Homo sapiens: one gene and its partners. The protein of the gene in region 3 purifies or fractionates together with the protein of the main gene of each other region. This does not show direct contact. Each region holds a gene or a part of one and is shown on either strand. Other genes may lie near its edges.

The links.
Region 1: the proteins of WDR20 (region 3) and COL11A2 purify together in Homo sapiens (affinity purification with mass spectrometry; one large-scale study listed by BioGRID and IntAct). This does not show direct contact.
Region 2: the proteins of WDR20 (region 3) and THUMPD3 purify together in Homo sapiens (co-immunoprecipitation; one large-scale study listed by IntAct). This does not show direct contact.

The regions. Positions count from the first base shown.
Region 1 is NC_000006.12:33,175,142-33,178,967, forward strand, and holds part of COL11A2 (collagen alpha-2(XI) chain isoform 1 preproprotein), read right to left. Parts: coding exon 3,779-3,826; intron 3,592-3,778; coding exon 3,538-3,591; intron 3,348-3,537; coding exon 3,294-3,347; intron 3,212-3,293; coding exon 3,167-3,211; intron 3,045-3,166; coding exon 2,991-3,044; intron 2,566-2,990; coding exon 2,521-2,565; intron 2,452-2,520; exon of another isoform or gene 2,325-2,451; coding exon 2,271-2,324; intron 2,085-2,270; coding exon 2,040-2,084; intron 1,905-2,039; coding exon 1,851-1,904; intron 1,625-1,850; coding exon 1,580-1,624; intron 1,346-1,579; coding exon 1,292-1,345; intron 1,163-1,291; coding exon 1,118-1,162; intron 929-1,117; coding exon 875-928; intron 541-874; coding exon 433-540; intron 1-432.
Region 2 is NC_000003.12:9,380,054-9,383,879, reverse strand, and holds part of THUMPD3 (tRNA (guanine(6)-N(2))-methyltransferase THUMP3), read right to left. Parts: intron 3,378-3,826; coding exon 3,262-3,377; intron 682-3,261; coding exon 571-681; intron 1-570. UniProt on the Homo sapiens protein: Catalytic subunit of the THUMPD3-TRM112 methyltransferase complex, that specifically mediates the S-adenosyl-L-methionine-dependent N(2)-methylation of guanosine nucleotide at position 6 (m2G6) in tRNAs.
Region 3 is NC_000014.9:102,195,041-102,199,192, reverse strand, and holds part of WDR20 (WD repeat-containing protein 20), read right to left. Parts: coding exon 4,073-4,152; intron 4,067-4,072; exon of another isoform or gene 3,320-4,066; coding exon of another isoform or gene 3,289-3,319; intron 1,439-3,288; coding exon of another isoform or gene 1,346-1,438; intron 1-1,345. UniProt on the Homo sapiens protein: Regulator of deubiquitinating complexes. Activates deubiquitinating activity of complexes containing USP12. Anchors at the base of the ubiquitin-contacting loop of USP12 and remotely modulates the catalytic center of the enzyme.

The DNA.
Region 1 (3,826 bases), on a different chromosome or scaffold from region 3:
ACCTCAGCAAAACAGTACGTCACATGCCTACCTCATAGGATAGATAGGACGCATCAGCACAGCACCTGGCACAGGGCAAGTGCTGGGGAGAGTCAGCTCTGGAGACCACAGACCTCACTGCTATTAGACTCTCTCATCTCAGAACTCCTGCTGCTTGGAGTCCGAACGCATGTTCACTCTGCCTTGAAGCAACAGCTACTCTCTAAGCTTCGTCTCCGTCCAACTCTTCGTGTCAGGGACTTTTCCCTGACTTCTTATATATCCCCTCTGCCCATCAGCAGCTGAGAGATGCCATTTACACAGACAGAAGTATGACTAATGCATGGCCATCTTCAACTGACTGGCTGACTTCAGCGGCGGGCACCCATGCCCATCCTGACCCCAGTGCCCACACCCCCAGAGGACCCAGGCACAGAACCCTCATCCCATCACCTTCTCGCCCATGAGCCCTGGGGGCCCAGGGTCTCCAGTCGGTCCAGTGCGTCCCTTTGGCCCCTCAGGACCATCCTCTCCCCTGGAACCAGGGACTCCAACTTCGCCCTGTGTGAGAGGGAAGGACAGGTGAGTGCTGGGGACTGGAGGTGGGCTCTGGGCCCAGAGGAGAAATGGGCAACAGTGAGGCTGAGGAGGGCTAGAGGGGTCCCAGGAGCCACTGCAGGACAGGAAGCCCACAGGGTAGGGATAGTGTAGTGATGGGAGGGCAGGCATGACACAGACCATGGGGCTATCATCCTGTAGGGGTCAGGCTCCCAAGGGAACACAGCACTGGAACTGTGGAGTCTGGAGACTCAGGAGAATAAACCGGTGCTTGGCGTCTCCAGAGTGGAGGCTCAGTAGAACACGGAATTGGGGCCAGTGTGGGGTCTCTACTCACCCTGTCACCTTTCACGCCTATGTCACCTTTGAACCCAGGAAAGCCATCCTCACCCTGAGAAAGATAGAGGTGAGAGGGCACCACAGATGACAGAGGGCTGGGGTTCTAATGGGAATTCTGAGAACATAGGTGGAAGCAGGGGCTCGGGAGCTGGACGGCAGTGCGGGGCAGGCTGGAGGGAAGGCAGTGAAGAGAGGAGATGGCAGGACTGAGGTGCTGGGAAGCTGGGGGCATGGTGCTCACCTTCTCACCCTTATGACCCTTCAGACCCCGAATTCCGTCCACACCCTAGAATTAGAGAGGGGATAGAAGTAGACTGATCAGGGGATGGAGGTGGGTTGGAAGGACCAAGCTCCTAAGACCCCATATAGCTCCCCTGACCACAGCCCTTTGTCTCCCAGCCTGGTGGTCAGTTACCTTGACCCCTCGAGGTCCTGGGTATCCTAGAGGTCCCTGAGGTCCAGAGGGACCCTGGAAGATAAAAGAGAGGCATTTATAAAGGGGCCTCAGAGTGTCACTGTGGGGGCCTCCAGGGGTGGAAGAAATGGAAGTAACAACATTGCTGTCTGGGTAGGGTTACGGGGCACAGGAATTGAGAATGTGGCAGAGCCATATGAATAATGAGACAAGGGAATCCCAAGGACTTTGAGGCTCTAGAGTCTGAGTGGAGACTCCCTCAGGGGATAAAGACATGGAAGATCTCACCTGGTTTCCTTTGGTTCCAGGGGGACCTTCCTTCCCTGGGTGACCCTGGGAGTAAGGGATAGAAAATGTGACCAGTGGCCCCTGTCACCCTCTCTGCACCCCTCCCTACACTTCTTCCAACCCAAATTTCCTGTGACCTAGTGAAGCCAACTGTCCATGGACAAGCACCACCAGTGACCTTTCAGTGCAAGGGTCACTAAAGGAGCTCTGAGGTCATGCACTGGGGTGGAAGGCCAAGGGGAACTGGATTCGGAAGTGGGGTCCCACTCACCGGGGGTCCGTCTGAGCCAGGCATGCCGGGGAGCCCTGGCTTCCCTTGAGGACCCTGCAGGAAGACAAAGAGGCTCAGGGTCACTAGAGGGGTCATGTCTGGACACAGACAAAATCCCAGCAGACATTTAGGGTTCTCCCTACATCCCCACTCTAAACCCCCTGTCCTCCAAATCACTTAGTCACTTACCTTCTCTCCATGAGGGCCGATGGCACCCTGGGGCCCGGGAAGACCCTACATACAGGGAAAGAGAAGTCACAGGGGCCTCCCAGGGTCTCTTCTATCCAGCCTCCCGGATTCAAAGCATGAGCAACAAGGGCCTGAAACCCTTAATTTCCTGTATCCTTCCAGGGTCTCACCCATTGTGGAAGCCCAAGGGAAGTCATGAAAATTGGGGAACGGAGTAGGGGCACCGCTCACCTGGGTCCCAGGGGTGCCCTGTTGTCCAGGAGGTCCTGGCTCTCCCTGGGGTCCCTAGAAACAGGTGACCAGGCACAGGTCAGAAGGAGATGGAGATAGAACACATTTAGAGCATGGAGCTGAGTCCCAGCAGCGATAGCCAAGAAGGCAAGAGCAGGAAGCAGGCAGGGGTCAAAATGGCGGCCAACAGGATGCTGGCAGGGACCTCGGGGGATAAGAATGGGGGTGGGATCTCCTATCCATCACTCACCAAGCTCCCTTTGGGGCCCTGGGGACCATCCATGCCTCGGACGCCCTGAAACACAAGATGGGTGTGAGCAGCCTGAAGGTGGCCCGGAGGGACCTGTGGTTTTCAGAGGCCCGGCCATTCCCGAGGGTGTGACGGTCAGACCTCCAATCCATCCCAAACCCAAGCAAACACAGCTGGCCCAGGCCTGCAGTGTGTGGGACTGTGGATCTGTGGGCTTGTGGGCTTTGGTTTTGTTTTTCTTGAAGATTTATTTCCTATGCCCAGAGCCCTCAGGGCACCACGCCACATGGCCCTCCCTGTGCACGGGGAGCGAATGCTGAGGCAGGGCAGTGTGGGGCCAGAGCAGGGGGAGCTCACAGGGAATGGGAAGCATGCCGAGAGAGGAGAGGGAGCAGGAAGGCAGCTAGAAAGGTGGAGAGTTGGAGAGGTCAAGGGGTCACCTCAGGGTCAGAAGTCAGGGAGTCACTTACAGGGGGTCCAGGAATACCAGGTGGGCCTTTGGGGCCAAGGAGACCTCGAGGTCCCTGCATTCACGGTGAGGGGAGGAGACGGCATGAATGGATAAAACTGTGTCCCTTTAGTGCTCATGTCCCCCTCCTGGCTTCCCCAGAGCCCCCTCCCCCAGCACCAGCCCTTGGACACTCACCGACTCTCCAGGCAGCCCTCGAGGCCCAATCTCCCCGTCATCTCCCTGGAGGAGGAGGACACGGTAAAGCTGCTGTGCCTTCTAGACCTCCCCTGCACCCAGCCCCTACATTTGCCACTACACTTACCCTCTCTCCATCCTCACCAGGGGGACCAGGAAGGCCCTGGGCACCAGTATCACCCTGCAAAATGGGGGAACTCATAAGAGGGGCTTCAGAGCCCCCAACACAGGCAGACACCGAACCTCTGCACTTAGCCCATCCATTACTTTCACTGAGCTCCTGCCAAGCCTCCAGCCTCCCTTCCCTACCTATCCTCACTCCCATAGAAGATCTATCCCCAATTACAACACACACCCACTAATGTACTCACCCTATGGCCCTTCTCTCCAGGGAGCCCTGGGAGTCCATCAAAACCTCGGTCACCCTAGGAGGAGGAAGGATAGCCAGAGTGAGGACACGACCCTGTCCAAGCCCACCCCTCCCTACTGCACCCTGAGCTGGGGGGGTGCTGATCCTGGGGAAGCCTGGAGAACTAGGTCATCCCCAAGAAACAACTGAGCCCAGCGTGGGCTGAAGGCTACAGGCTTCAGGGAGGGGCCCAAGCCTGTTACCTTCACTCCAGGATCTCCAGGCATCCCTCGGGCTCCATCAGCACCTGC
Region 2 (3,826 bases), on a different chromosome or scaffold from region 3:
GAGGCTGAGGCGGGCAGATCACCTGAAGTCAGGAGTTTGAGACCAGCCTGGCCAATATGGTGAAACCCTGTCTTTTAAAAATACAAAAATAAGCTGGGCATGATGGCATGTGCCTGAAATCCGAGCTACTCAGGAGGGTGAGGCAGGAGAATCGCTTGAACCCGGGAGGCAGAGGTTACAGTGAGCCGAGATCATACCACTGCACTCCAGCCTGGGCAACAGAGCAGGGCTCTGTCTCCAAAAAAAAAAAAAGAATCATTTATGCTGAGAAACAGAATGAGAACCAAGTCTTCTACCACCTTTTTGTGTAGGATATATAATTCAAGAATGGGCTAGAAAGTGAATTACAGGTAATTTAAAAATGAACCTCCCATGATGGTCAGGATTCCAAATGTAGTTAATACATTCCTGAGTTCTCGGAAGAAACATAATGGGTGAATCCATCATGTTGTTAAGTGAAAAACAGCTCTGCTAAGTCTGCTAAAATTCAAGATTTTTTTCCTGACTTAGAATAAACGCAAGGAAAATAATGACATATTTAGAAGACAAGCAGGTACTAGTATTTCTCACCTTTTTCCAAATGGCAAATCTGTTACAATAATATCCACAGAGCCAGTTCTCAATGGCAGATTGCAGATATCCCACTGAACAGCATCTATGGGCAAGCCCCAGGAGGGTTTGCTGTGGGGACAAAGGAAAGGTGCTTCAACATACTGTGAAGCATAAAGTTATTACAACAATTTTTGTTTCTGAAGAGAGACTGCTACAGCAAAACATAAACTGCTAAGGATATCAGTGATAATATCAACCTATTCAAAATTTAAGAAATGGCACAAAGGTAAAAAATAGGTCAGGCTGGGCATGGTAGCTTGTGCCTATAATCAGCACTTTCAGGGGCTGAGGTGGGAGGATCACTGGACTCCAGGAATTTGAGACCAGCTGAGCAACACTGTGAGACCTTGTCTCTAAAATACTTTTTTAAGAAGTTAGCAGGGCATGATGGCACACACCTATAGTCCCAGCTACTCAGGAGGCTGAGGTGGGAGGATCACTTGAGTCCAGGAGTTGAAAGATGCAGTGAGCTAGGATTGTGCCGCTTTACTCCAGCCTGGGTGACAGAGCAAGACCCCCGTCTCAGAAAAAAGGGAAACAAACTGAAAACATGATTGTAATGCAGAGAACTGCAAAAGACAACTTTAAAAACAATGCTGAAGCAGTAAATTACATAACCGATGATACAAAAATTTAAGTTGCTGATAAAACATACACTGGAGAAAAACAATACTAAAGAATAGATAATGGGGTGATGTATCTGAAGAATAAAGTTTGTAAAACTAGTAATAACAGGAGGCCTAAAAGAAAAACAGATAGTAAAATTGGCAAATATATAGGTAATTGTTTCAAGATGAAAAACCAAAAGGAAAATATGTGCCATGCTATATAAAACAAGACTAAGAAAAAAGTTAAGATAAAAAATATAGATGACAGAAGACAGAATGAATAATAATAAATACAAAGGATTTAAATCCTCCTCATTAAGGCAAAGCAACTGGTTTAAGAAACAAAATAATGCACAGGCTAAGAACTGAAGATAAGTCAAAGGTTATCAGCAGAAATTAAGGATTTAATTGACATTTAATGAAGAATTTAAGAAAAAAATGCAATAAAAGCAATCATTACATAATTTTTAAAAGTACACATAAAATATGTATTATAACCGCATACCAATAACTGCACAAAACAAAAGGCAAAAAATATTAAAAACCAAAGTAAAATGGATAGAAATGTACAGGTTGAGGCCGGGCACAGTGGCTCATGCCTGTAATCCCAGCACTTTGGGAGGCCAAGGTGGGCAGATCATGAGGTCAGGAGATTGAGACCATCCTGGCTAACATGGTGAAAACCCGTCTCTACTAAAAATACAAAAAAAAAATAAGCCGGGCATGGTGGCGGGTGCCTGTAGTCCCAGCTACTTGGGAGGCTGAGGCAGGAGAATGGCGTGAACCCGGGAGGCGGAGCTTGCAGTGAGCCGAGATCAAGCCACTGCACTCCAGCCTGGGCGACAGAGTGAGACTCCGTCTCAAAAAAAAAAAAAAAAAAAAAAAAAAAAAAAAAAAAAAAAAGTACGGGTTGAACAGACAGTGTAGGTACAAACAAGATAAAATATTCAGAAGCTAGAAAGGTACGTTTGTTTAAATGTTTATCAGTTTTAATTAAAAAAAAAAAAGACTGGCCATATACTAGGCTCATTAAAAAAAACCCTCAATAAATATGAAACAACCATTCAAAATTAATTCATCACAATAAATCAGTATTTAAGAAAATTGAAGCCTTCCAACTACTTGTCTTAATACACGTAAAAGGATTTAATGTTGATACATAGACCAGCAGCATCAGCATTGTCCTGGAGTTTCCTGGAAAATGCAGACTCTTAGGTCCCATCCCAAACTACTAAATCAGATCTGTGTTAACAGTACTCCTAGGTGATTCACATGTACATTAATGTTTGAGAAGCACTGTCCTAAAAAATTAGATCAGAGAGACAATGAAATATATAACCAATGACTTAGTAATAAAATAGAGGCGAGGCTATATAAACTGCAGTATTTCTATACGATGGAATTTATGTAGTGACTTTAAAGACTATGGTCCAGGTGTGGTGACTCGTCTCTAATCCCAGCAATTTGGAAGGCTGAAGCGGCAGAATCTCTTGAGGCCAGGAGTTTGACACCAGCCTGGACAAAACAGCAAGACCCCCATCTCTACGAAGATTTTAAAAAATTAGCTGGGCATGGTGGCACATGCCTGTATTCCTAGCTACTAGGGAGGCCAAGGCAGGAGGATTGCTTGAGCTCAGTAGGTTGAGGCTACAGTGAGCCATGATCATGTCACTGCACTCCAGCCTGGGTGACAAAATGAGACCCTGTACCCAAAGCAAAAAAGAAGCCTATGTAAAAATATACTGTTTAAAATTTTGTGAAATTAAAATGAGTCTATAAAATATTCTTCCAATATGTAGGGGAAAAGACATATGAATAAGACAAATGAAAAATTGCATATGGTGGGGAAATTATCGCTAAAATAATATTTTAAAAATATAACTTATTTTCAATAAACTTTAAAAATGTAAATGGAGTCTCATAGTATATTCATTTTGGTTACAATGACGTCACAATGCACTGGGAGTTTTAATTCATAAAGTCAATATAAAAAGTGATTCTCTAACTCTAAAAGATGCTAAGAAATCTTTTAAATTTTTACCCTTCTTTAATTTGGCTCTTGGTCAATAAAGATGCAATGTTATTTGCTGCTCTATTCACAGCCAGTGGATTATTATCACCAGCAATATGGAAACAGTCAGACCATTCAGTGGCCCCCTAAAAGATAAGAGTGTATGTTAAAACAAAAGTAGCAAACTGTAAAATATGATTAAATTGTCAACAAACAAAGAAAATCCAGTGCTTTTCTAGAGTGGCAAAACATTGCATGTTGTCAACTGTGCTATTTCCCTGGCTGAAAATGCCCTCTTATTCTTTCTCTGCTTGCTGAACCTCTACCCATCTCTTAAGACCCAGCTCAAACCTCATGCCCTTTCAACATCAACCTTAACTCTCCAAGCAGTCTTATGTGCCCCTCCCAAAAACACTTTGTATGTACGTACCTCTGCCACTGCACTTGTCCCACGGTTAATTATTTCTTCCCCTTTATGCCTCTCAACTAACCTGGGAGCTCTCTGAGGTCAGGTCTAGTATTTTATTCAGTTCCTCATCCAGCAGTGTCTGGCACACTAAATTCTAAGTTAATGCGGTTTGAAAATATTTGAGAT
Region 3 (4,152 bases):
TGGCAGAGCTGGTGTCCGAGCCCTCAGCATTCTGGGCTGTGAAGTTGTAAATGTCGTGGTAATTAACTGTGTGTTAAGTGCCCCTTTGAAAGCAGTAGCTGAGATGGCCAGAATCTTGGAGTATAATCAGGCCTCAGACCCAGGCCTTCTTTGTTCTCACCATCATCTCTCCAAAGAACCTTTCATCTAATCTCAAGGATGTGATTATTATTTCTATGCTGACAACTGCCAAATTGTAACCCCTAGTTTTGTGCTCCAGATCCATACATCCCACTATCTACAGGTCTCTCGAACTTAGCAAGTACAGACCAGAACCTCTGATCTTCCCCTCCATTCCCTGACAACTGCTCCTTTCCCAGTCTCACCCAACACAGCAAGAGACACCCAGAAACCTGATTTATTAATACACCTTTCCAATTCAGTCTCCAAAAAGCAGCCAGGGTACCTTTCAAAAACACCAATCTGCCTGCCTTGTGCACCTGCTCCCTTCTAAGGAATCCCGTACTTCAGGCTAAGAAACAAATCTGGATCAGGCCGTAGGTGATGTGGCCCTCCAATCTCATGCCCTTACTTCATGCCACCTTCCCCAGGTAAACCGTCCTTCTTTCAGTTTCCTTGGGCTCAAGGGCCCTCATGTGCTATTCCTTTTGCAGGAAAGCTCCATCTCCAGTTCCTTACCTGGTTGGCCTTCTTCTCACATGAGGCACAGCTTAAAACATAGCACTTCGTCCGAGAGATGTCCTCTGCCTCCCAGTTTAAAGTAGACCTCTGTGTTGGCCAGGCGTGGTGGCTCACGCCTGTAATTCCAGCACTTTGGGAAGCTGAGGTGGGTGGATCACTTGAAGCCAGGAGTTCCAGACTAGCCTGGCCAACATGGTGAAATCCCGTCTCTACTAAAAATACAAAAATTAGTCAGGTGGCCTATAATCCCAGGTACTTGGGTGGGTGAGGCACAAGAATAGCTTGAACCTGGGAGGTGAAGGTTGCAGTGAGCCAAGATTGCGCCACTGCACTCCAGCCTGGGTGACAGAGTAAGACTCTGTCTCATAAATAAATAAATAAATAAATAAATAAATAAATAAATAAATAAATAAAGTAGACCTCTGTGATTCTCTCCCTTTCTTGGGCCTGCTCTCTTGCCTCTTACATCACAAAGTGTCACCATCTGTGGTCACCAGTGTTTCGGGGGTGGTGCTATTATACCTCTCTTCCCTCCTGAGAGGGGTCACAGGAGGGCAGGTTTTGCCCACTGCTGCAGACCCAGTGCTGGGCATGTGGTAGGTAGTCAAGGTCCTGAATGAATGAAACAATGGCCGCAACTCTAGTTCAAGCCCTCAGCTCTCACCTGGACAGTTACTAGAGCCTCCTCACTGGTCTTGCTACCTTCATTCTGTCTTTCTTCATTCCAATCCACCTTCCACAAGTGCTGACAAGAGTTCTAAAAAAACACATTTGATCCTGTCACTCCCTTCATTAAAAGGCCAAAGGTTCCCCCACATCTTCCAGTGTCAGTTCCAAATTGCTTCACGTGACATGAAAAGGCTTTTATAAGACAAGCTGGTTCCAATTTATCTTTCCAGCTTCGAACTCTGACACTCCAAGTCCCACACTGTGATGTGGCCAAGCTGTTACTGGATGTTCTTTCACATGCCTAGTTGTTCCTCCAGCTTTGAAGGCCTTCCTTACCCTCCTCTAATGACTATGTACCCTTTAAGACCCACATCAAACATCACTTTCTAAAAGCATTTCTTGGAACTCCCCCAGTGAACTTAACATTTTAAAAAACTTTAAAATGCATACTAAAGAATTCCTGCGGCAGCTAGCCCTTGGTATTTTGTTCATATCGCTGTGCTGACACGTGCCCAGTACTCTCTGTCCATTCTTACTAAACTGTGAGCTCCCGGAAGGGCAAGAGCTCATCTGGCAACCATGCATGGTGGGTCCTGTAACCAATGAGTTTCTGGAATTAATTTCTGGTTCCAACTCTATCATCAACTTGCTACCTGATCTGGACAATTCACTTATGTGCTCTTTGACTATTTCCTCATCTGTAAAATGGGAACAACTCCCCACCCTCCCTGTAGAGGCCATAGGTAAAAGTGCCTTGAAACCTGTAAATGTCACACCACAGCAAAGCACGACACGATGACTACTTCACCACCATTCCTGGCACTCTCTAAGGAACAAACCTCCGGTGACCCTTGCTCTTAGACATTCTGACCAAAATCTGATAAAAATGTATCCACATGGCCAGAGGATCTCCTTACTATGAAGGGCAATCGATTTCAGCCTCAAGCTGTAAATGCAAAGCTGGCATTAAACCACACACAGTCTTAGCATTCTAAATAGCAATTTCTCAAATAAAATGTAAAGTGAGTATGAGATAACTCATGCTTAAATCATGAAGAATGAGGAGCTGCCTTCCAGCCTGCAACTCCCAGTCACCAGGGCAGGGATAGTTCTGGCCAATGCAGCCTGAGTGCTCCCAGAGCCCTGAGATTCTGGGGACGTGTGGTCTCCAACTCCCTGCCCTCCCCCTGCCACGACACACAAAACTTTCTTGTTCTCTAAGCGGCATTCTGTACCATCCTCGGCCAGGGCTGCCTCCGGGTCTTGTTTACTAACAGCCCTTACATGGCTCCAATCCCTGCCCCCTCCAATCACACTCTCCCCTACCTAAACAATAAAAACCCACAATGATTCCAAATTCACAATTTCTGCTAACAGTGCAGAGGAGGCCAATTTTGTGCGCTGCTCCCCAAACTCAGCACCAAAAAAATAATCATCCAGCTACTTAGAAATCACTTCTGCAGATGATACTAAAAAAACATCTAGGTAAATAAAATATTTTCTGCTTAACTTTTTTTTAATGGAAAATGGGATTAAATACTTTTCCTCTACAATCTGTCAGTCCAGATGGCAAGTTTTGTTTCCAGTCAACTCAGAGGAAACTAGAAGAGATGGCATGGTTCATAAGATCTTATCAAATCCACTGGCAATGTCAAACAGGAGCACCCTGGGTGGATACTGATTTGCATGAATAGCAAGTACCATAACTGCAAAAGAATCCAAATTTTAACTGCCATTTGTCAATTTGAATTTTCTTCCCCAAACAAAATTATTTCTTAAAAACCATACTCTATAATGTGTTTTTGTTCCAAGTTAATGATGTTAAAACCATGCAACAATGCAAAAGGGAGGGGGTCCCACATAGCCTGACCCTTGCGCCTCAGGGGCAAGGTCCCAAGTAGAGATTGGAACCCAGGGCTTCTAACTCAGCAAGCCTACCTTATCTTTTCCACTTGGTAGAAAAGTCATACTGAAACAGACGAGGAAGAATATTAAATATGAAATAGCAATACTTGAGGCTGAAAGATGCTCCAACAGCTTTAAAAAATATAATCTACTTGGCAATTTCTATATGCCACATTTAACAGTCCTGACATGTTCCTGAACAGACAGCTCAGATATCTCAGGCTCTTTCCAGAATGAAATTGAAGATACTAGAAACCCCAGTACATACTACAACACTGGCAAAAGCTATGTCATGTGACCAAACTTTAAGCGCCAGGATTTCCAACTATGTCAAAGATGAGTTTACAGTAACTATTTTCAAGAGCAAGTGAAGTACTCCTTAGCCAAATGACTGTCAAACATACATACAAAAGCTTTGGCTACAATTTAAGCAGCCTAAGGAAATGTCATCAAGTTCTTTGATCTGCATGAAATGTTCTGGTGATGTGAACCAACTTTGGAATTCCACATTTTCTTACTTAAATTATAAATACCGAGTTACAGTACTGTCCCTATCTCCATTATAGAAGAGTTTTAAAACACCTGTTATAGACACCTGAGCATGCTCCATAAAAATGCACAAAACAGTCACCCCAAGGAAGAACAGGTAAGGTCAACAAATTAATCCACCACATTTAAACTTGGGCATACTAGGTAGGAGGGCTGGGCGAATAAAAAATGGGCTTAGCTTGAAGTGCAAAATAAGGCCGACTACCCTCGGTAAGAATGTATCAACTCTTAAAGGGATTCTTAACAGCTAAGACAGGGTGCTACTTACTTCCTCATTAAAAAGTTTGCTAGTTTCTTTTTTGATTGGGTCTATAAGCTGGACTTGGCCTGCGGAAAAGCCCACTAGGA